Homo sapiens: one gene and its partner. The gene in region 2 interacts genetically with the main gene of each other region. Each region holds a gene or a part of one and is shown on either strand. Other genes may lie near its edges. The genes, in order: DOT1L and NTRK1.

Region 1 (4,005 bases), on a different chromosome or scaffold from region 2:
CTGCACTTCCCCACACCACACTCCAAGTCCAACAAAGGTCAGTAGAGTGACCGCAGAACCCAGTAGCTCCACTCCCACATGGGCCAAAGAGCAAACCTACATCCACACAGAAACCTGGACCCCAGCGCTCACAGCAGAACGATTCACAATCGCCAAAACAGGGAATCAAGCCGGGGTCCATCAACTGGGCACGGATGAAGATGGCACACTCCATCCACACAGGGAATGCCCTCACGTGCCAAGAGAAGGGACAGGCCCAGACATGAGCGTGTTCGGGGGCCCGGGGGCTGGGGGACGACTAGGGAGTGACTGCTGAGGCGGGCAACGCTTTTTCCCGGGTGAAGAAAATGTCCTGAATTAGACAGAGGTGTATAAAAGTACAAAAAACCGGCCGGGCACGGGGGCTGACACTTGGAATCCCAGCACTGTGGGAGGCCGAGGCGGGTGGGTCGACTGAGGCCAGGAGTTCGAGACCACCCTGGCCAACAGGGCAAAACCTCCACCTCTATTAAAAATACAAAAATTGGCCGGGTGCGGTGGCTCATGCCTGTCATCCCATCAATTTCGGAGGCTGAGGTGGGCAGATCACCTGAGGTCAGGAGTTTGAGACCAGCTCGGCCAAGATGGTGAAACCCTGTCTCTACTAAAAATACAAAAATCAGCTGGGCATAGTGGTGCATGCCTGTAATCCCAGCTACTCGGGAGGCTGAGGCAGGAGAACTGCTTGAACCCAGCAGGCGGAGGCTGCAGTGAGTAAAGATCACAAGATCGTGCCACTGCCCTCCAGCCTGGGCAACAGAGCAAGACTCCGTCTCAGCTGGTGGGGGCGGGGATTAACCGGGCGTGGTGGTGGGCACCTGTAATCCCAGCTACTCGGGAGGCTGAGGCAGGAGAATGGCATGAACCTGGGAGGCAGAGATTGCAGTGAGCCGAGATCACACAATTGCACTCCAGCCTGGGGGACAGAATGAGTCTCCATCTCGAAAAATAAAAAAAAAGAAAGAGGCCAGACGTCGTGGCTCACGCCTGTAATCCCAGCACTTTGGGAGGCCCAGGCGGGCGGATCACTAGGTCAGGAGATCAAGACCATCCTGGCTAACACGGTGAAACCCCATCTCTACTAAAAATACAAAAAATTAGCCAGGCGTGGTGGCGGGCGCCTGTAGTCCCAGCTACTCGGGAGGCTGAGGCAGGAGAATGGCGTGAACCCGGGAGGTGGAGCTTGCAGTGAGCCGAGATCGCACCACTGCACTCCAGCCTGGGCGACAGAGTGAGACTCCGTCTGAAAAATAAAAATAAAAAATAAAAAATAAATGCTAAAAACCACTGAAGCATATACTTGAAGCGCACAATTTTTAAAAAATAGTTCAATGCCCAGAAAATCCCGCCCATGCTACACAAGACGAGATTCTCTGCATGCACAGCGCTGGGTGGGAGAACCCAGAGGCAGCTGTGAGGACAGGGGCCACGGCAGCCAATGTGGCCTCGTGAGGAGTGAGGCTGGGAGCCAGGGTGGGCCTCTGAGCTCCTCCTCAACCCAGAAGGTGTGAGGCCCTCTCCACTTGCACACGTACCTTTCACCCAAAAGAAAAAGACTGGCGAAAACAACGGCCCAGGTCACCGGACACGCCCCGGCTTTGGACAGCCCACCTTGACTGCATTGCCTCACGCTCGACATTTTACAGCGTGAGACTTCGCAAAGTGAGCCAGGTCTCGAGCACCCCAGACTGTTTTGCCTCAACGTGGCCCTTGGGGACAGCCACCTGGGAGCCACTCACCGCCCTCTCGGCGCGGCTGGGCAGCACCACGCTGGCCAGGGGAATGCTGACCGGGAGCTTGTTGGGCTGCACGGTGCTGAGCGGGATGCTGATGGGCAGGCTGGTGATGAGCTCCCCGCTGCTGCCGTAGGCGCGCTCTCTCAGGCCCTGCAGACGAAGGCCCGACCCCCAGTCGTGGGTCAACAAACCCCTCCAGGACACAGGGACCACAGCCACAGGACGGGGGCCTGCTACAGCTCTCTCAAGGCGGCCCCCACGCTGCCAAGGCCCTGCAACCTTCCCCACGCAGTCAGGCCCTCCTGGACACCGGCTTTGGGACACTCCAGAGGGACGGCACGCTCCTGGTGTCTGAAAGCAATGCCCATCTGTCCCCTCCAGCCTGCCCGCCCGGCTCGGTGGGCAGTCACCCGTGGGGCCACCAAGCCTCCCAGGGCCCACATCCATCACTGCCAAGTCCATGCAACGTCACCGTCCTTCCCTCTCCATCCCTGTGCACACAGGCCAGTGCCCCCGGGGAAGTCCTCATGGGCAGCGGCCTCCCAAACTGGGCTCTGTGTCTCTACCAGCACTTGCCGTCCGTCACTGAGAACTAAGAGGCATCAGGGACACCCTGACAAACCCCATGTCCTCCATGGCACCTGCCCAACGTCACCTGTGACCTGTCCTTACTGGTTGCCCCCAACTCTGCCACAACATCCTACTCCAGGTCAGCCCCAGTACCTCACCGTGCCCCAAGGTCAACTAGGACAAGCCCTCCTGCTAGCAACTCGCTCAGGCCGCCTCTGCTGAGCACCTCCCTGAGCCCGGGGCAGGGGTCGCGGCCCGCACCTTCTCACTGCTCTTCTCTCCAGCAAGCTGCAAGGCCCCAGGGGACAGGGGCCGCGGGTCCTGAGGGCTCAGCTTCATGCTGCCAGGCACGCTGGGGCTCTGGTAGGGAAGGCCGTTCTCCTTGGTGTGCTCAGCTCTGGAATGAGAAGCTGCAGTCACTCTCGAGGGCCGTGGGCTGGCACTCAGAGGCAGCGGCCTGGCCCAGCACCTCCCCACCTCAGTCTCCTCAACAAACACACTCCTGCTGAGAACCCGACAGCCTGAGCACACCAGGCAGAGTCGGCAGGTACCAGCTGCAGACCCCCAGCCCCACCAGGGCACTCACCTCGAATGCAGCTCACTGGCAGCCGGCCTGCCGGGCACCGTGTGGTCCTGGCTCAGGTGCCGCCTCAGCACAATCTTGGCCGGGGACAGCCTAGTGTAGTCGGGTGCGGCTAGGCCAGACAGCTTCTCCAGGCGCGGCCGGCCGACGTGGCTAGGGGTACAGGGCACCACCTCCTGGTCCAGGGGTGAGGCCAGGTACTGGGGCGTGTTCTGCTTCGACGAAGGCCGGCTCAGCACACCGCAGAGCTCATAGCCAGCAGCCTGGCCGTTCATGGAGAGCTCCGGGCTCATGCTGCTCAAGTGAGGCAGCGAGAACTTGGTGCAGTCCAGCTCCAGGTGCAGCCGGCTGGCGTCAGGCTCCAGCTCGCGGCCCAGGGCGCCCTTCCCACGCAGGTGCAGGGACAGGGCGTCGTCAGGCGGCACACAGGACTTGAGCTGCAGGAGCTCCTGCTGCCGCTGGCTCTTCTCTAGCTCCACAATGCTGATCTGCAGGAGGAGAGATGGTGTCAGGCCCGCCCCACCGGGGGACCACTCCAGGGAACCAAGACTGCCACAGATGGACACCCGGAGGGGTGGCCAGGACCCCCGCTGCTTGTGTGGGATGGAAAAACCAAAGCTGCCGACCACATAGAGGCGGGGTCGGGAAGCTGGGGGCGTCAAATAAAGTCATGTGGAGGGCCGAGGATGGTTTTTGCTGACATGGAAGCACCTTCTTCAAAAAGAGCAACAGGAAGATACAAAGAGCTCTCGTCTCTCAAAATAGACTCTAAGTGTAAAACATCCAGTTTCACTAAGTGTAAAACCTGTGGAGGGACACGCCACTCGAGCGTGGCAGCTTCCCCGGGCGCTGAGTCTGAGAGGGGCTTTTTCCTTTTAGTTTATCTGTTCTGTTTACCTGCTTTCCTTTCTTTTAACAAACACATTGTTTTTTTATTACACAGAAAAGATGATGACAAAAATGGTCAGAACCCAAATATGCTCTTCCCGAGGGCTCTACTCCAGGCAGACCCACAGGGCCCGGCTGTGGTAAAGAGGTCGGCGACCTCCGTTTCTCTAATGTACGCTGGTGAGGCTC
Region 2 (3,500 bases):
CTGGTCCACAGGATAAGCCCAAGACTCAGGGGTCTCTCCTAGCTGAGTCCTGCAGCCTGACTGCATGAATGACCCATCACTCCCAAAGGGATGTTTGGGGACCAGATCATGACCATCAACTGGACAACCATACAGCGCTTGCTCATCCAGAACCACAGCCCCCACACTGTCCCTCTTACTGGTGAGGAAAGTGAGGTCAGAGAGGAAAGCTACTTGGCAAAGAAGGCTCAGCTCATAAGTGGCAGCTGATTCCAAACCCTGCTCTTCTCCCTGCCTTGCAAACACTGCCCCATCCTCCCGGGGGTGATCTCATCAGAGAAGGACTAGACCGAGGGAACATGTGACCATCACATCAGGGGCTGAGAGTAGGGGCTCTGCCTGGGGCCACATCACCCCTGGGCCATTCACTACCTGTGTGCCCTTGGGCAAGTCACTGAACCTCTCTAAGCCTTATCTGTGAAACAGGCACATTTCTCGAAGTTATTAAAATTATCAGCACAAATAGATAAATGTATCAGAGTTGTTCTGTCCGAAGCCAAAGAAATGAATTTTTTGTAACTTGCTTCAAGTGTAAATTGCAATATATGCTTGGAGGCCATAAAAAATAAATACATATTTATATTACTATACAAGATATATATGTACCAGCACATAGAACCATAATAAGAACAAATTGTAGAGCCAGGTGCAATGGTGTGCACCTGTAGTCCCAGCTACTGGGGAGGCTAAGGCGGGAGAATTGCTTGAGCCCAGGAATTTGAGGCTGCAGTGAGCTATTATTGCAACACCGTTGCACTCCAGCCTAGGCAACAGAGCAAGACCCCAACTCTAAAACAATAACAGTAATAAATACATGTTAAAAAATAAAAAATAATAAATTATAAAGTATATAACATAGCACCTGGAACATAGAAGGTGCCTGATAAATGTTCATTACTGTCGTTGTTACTGTCGTTATCTAAACTGCTACCCTTACAGGCCTGGCCTTTGTGTGCCACACACAAATGCACATACACCCTCTGCAAAGCCCACCCACCCCAAAGTTTTAGCTCACGGCCTTTGCCATCGCAACCTCCCTGACTACTGACACTTGTCCTTTGCAAGAGTCACCCCTATGTTCACACATCTGCCTCCTCTACCATCTCAGAGCTCCCTGGGGACGGGAATGTGCCTTCCTGATCTTTCTTGGTGTCTCCCCTTGGTTTGAAAGACAAGCAGGGATGTCTATAGGGAAGGGAAGACGGGGCCCAGAGCCAGGGGCCGGGGCCAGCGCTGAGGCCAGGTGCTGGTACCGGAGGAAGCGGTTGAGGTCCCCGTGCCGCATATACTCAAAGACCATGAGCAGGGGGCGGCCCTCGGTGCAGACGCCGAAGAAGCGCACGATGTGCTGGTGCTGCAGCATGGTGAGCAGCTCAGCCTCACGCTGGAAGTCCTGCCGAGCACTCTCGGACGCCTCCTTCAGTGCCTGGATGGAAGCGGCAGGGACAGGACTGAGTTGGGGGCCGAGCCCTCACTGCTGTTCACCCAGGGCAGCCCGCCCACCCCGGTATCCAGCCATGTCAGCCCTCTGCATCTCCCCCCACTCTGTCCTGATGTGATGGAGCTCCTGGGGGTGGGACCCAGGCCAGCAGTACCCCCCGGGGCAGGGTCTCACCTTGACAGCCACCAGCATCTTGTCCTGCTCAGGCAGGAGGTTGTGGCACTCAGCAAGGAAGACCTTCCCAAAGGCGCCCTCCCCCAGCTCCCACTTGAGCACGATGTCCCGGCGCTTGATGTGGTGAACACCTGAGGGGGCTTGCAGGGTCAGACGGTAGCCCCAGTCTTGGGAGGGCTGGGGTTGTAGCGGGGACTGTCTTGGCAGGGCTGTGTGCTGCACAAGGCTGCCCAGACGAGGGACTGCATGGGGGCTAAAATTCAACCTGCACCCCTTCAGCAAGCCCCATGTCATAGTGTGGGGCTGCACCTGCCCCGAGAGGACATGGTTTGGGCTAGCTGTGACTCTGGGCAGGGGATGCAGCTAAGAGCCAGGCTGGACTCAGCCTGAGAAGAATATGACAGGGCCTATGGCTGGAATAGGGCTGGGGAGGGGTGGGAGAAAGGGAGGGATCGTTCAGGCCTAGGGGCTTCTACACACACACACACACACACACACACACACACACACTCGTCCCTGCCCTTGACCCAGCATAGCCCCTCACAGGCATCACTGAAGTATTGTGGGTTCTCGATGATGTGGCCTTGGAGCCCAGAGCCTTTGCCCTCGGTGGGGGACAGGGAGCTGCCACCCAATGTCATGAAATGCAGGGACATGGCCAGCCCATCCTCTGGAGCCAGCACAGCCGGGCCTAGAGAGGAGACACAGCCGCATGGAGGGGTTTGCCCACACCTTGGCCCTGCCCACCCTTGCCTGCAGGATGCCTGGTCACCCCCACCTTGTAACTTGCAGGGGAGAGACTGAGAAGCTAGGGAGCGAGACAGCAGGCAGGGGGAAGGGGGCACCACCGCCTCTCCCTGTGCTGGCTCCTGTCCCACCCCTGGCCCCATGGGCACCAAAGAACTCCCCCTCCACCCCCACAGAGCCCAGACCTCCCAGACCCACTTAATGCTTGACTACAATCCAGCCACCAATTAGCAGCTGCCGCCTCTGAAACTACCCCAGCACCAGCCCGACACACGCTCCCACACACACTCACACTCACAAGCCTCACAGCCAGGCCTTCATTTATACCCCAAACACACTCACACGCCCTGGAACTCCCATGTGCACAGCCCCCCAGAGACAGAGTCAGGAAGAGCCAGTAGGAAACAAAGCCAGGAGAACAGACAGACAGACAGCCCTCTGCAGCCCCGACTCACGGTTGATCCCAAACTTGTTTCTCCGTCCACATTTGTTGAGCACAAGGAGCAGCGTAGAAAGGAAGAGGCAGGCAAAGACGGCCAGGCCCACAGCCACCGAGACCTGGTGGGGGACAGGGGTAGTTAGATCCAGGGGCTCCTCCTGTACTCTCAGAGCCTCCTGTAGTAAGCCATTTTTTCATCCTGCATGGGAGCCCGGAGCCAGGTCTCCAGACCTGCCTCATCCTCCCCTGGGGACCCCTGCAGTGGCTGTGCGGGTGGCCGTCAGAGCTCAGGCCAGATGGTAGTGATCTCCCTGCTCTGACCAGAAATGACATGCAGATGAGCCTCTACCCAGCCTCCCGGTCCCAAAGTCTGCACAAGCTTCTACTTCCTATCTCACCCCAAAAGGTGTTTCGTCCTTCTTCTCCACCGGGTCTCCAGATGTGCTGTTAGTGTCTGTAGGGACACAGGGCAGGAGGGGTGAGCCTTGACACACACTGTAGCCTCCAGTAACCCCCCAACCCTGGCCCCAGCTGGTCTCTCAGGGATCAGTTCAGCTGTACCCTCTGCCCCAGCCTCAGCTCCAGAGACCAGGCAGAACCTGCCCTCCACCTTGGGCTACTCACCCACCGGCGAGAAGGAGACTGCAGCAGGAGGGAGGA

The links.
Region 1: changes in NTRK1 (region 2) and DOT1L together harm fitness less than expected from each alone (positive genetic interaction), as found in Homo sapiens cells (one large-scale study listed by BioGRID).

The regions. Positions count from the first base shown.
Region 1 is NC_000019.10:2,215,692-2,219,696, reverse strand, and holds part of DOT1L (histone-lysine N-methyltransferase, H3 lysine-79 specific), read right to left. Parts: intron 3,417-4,005; coding exon 2,932-3,416; intron 2,743-2,931; coding exon 2,607-2,742; intron 1,926-2,606; coding exon 1,779-1,925; intron 1-1,778. UniProt on the Homo sapiens protein: Histone methyltransferase. Methylates 'Lys-79' of histone H3. Nucleosomes are preferred as substrate compared to free histones. Binds to DNA.
Region 2 is NC_000001.11:156,874,365-156,877,864, reverse strand, and holds part of NTRK1 (high affinity nerve growth factor receptor isoform 2 precursor), read right to left. Parts: intron 3,483-3,500; coding exon 3,465-3,482; intron 3,295-3,464; coding exon 3,239-3,294; intron 2,960-3,238; coding exon 2,857-2,959; intron 2,346-2,856; coding exon 2,199-2,345; intron 1,786-2,198; coding exon 1,655-1,785; intron 1,466-1,654; coding exon 1,293-1,465; intron 1-1,292. UniProt on the Homo sapiens protein: Receptor tyrosine kinase involved in the development and the maturation of the central and peripheral nervous systems through regulation of proliferation, differentiation and survival of sympathetic and nervous neurons.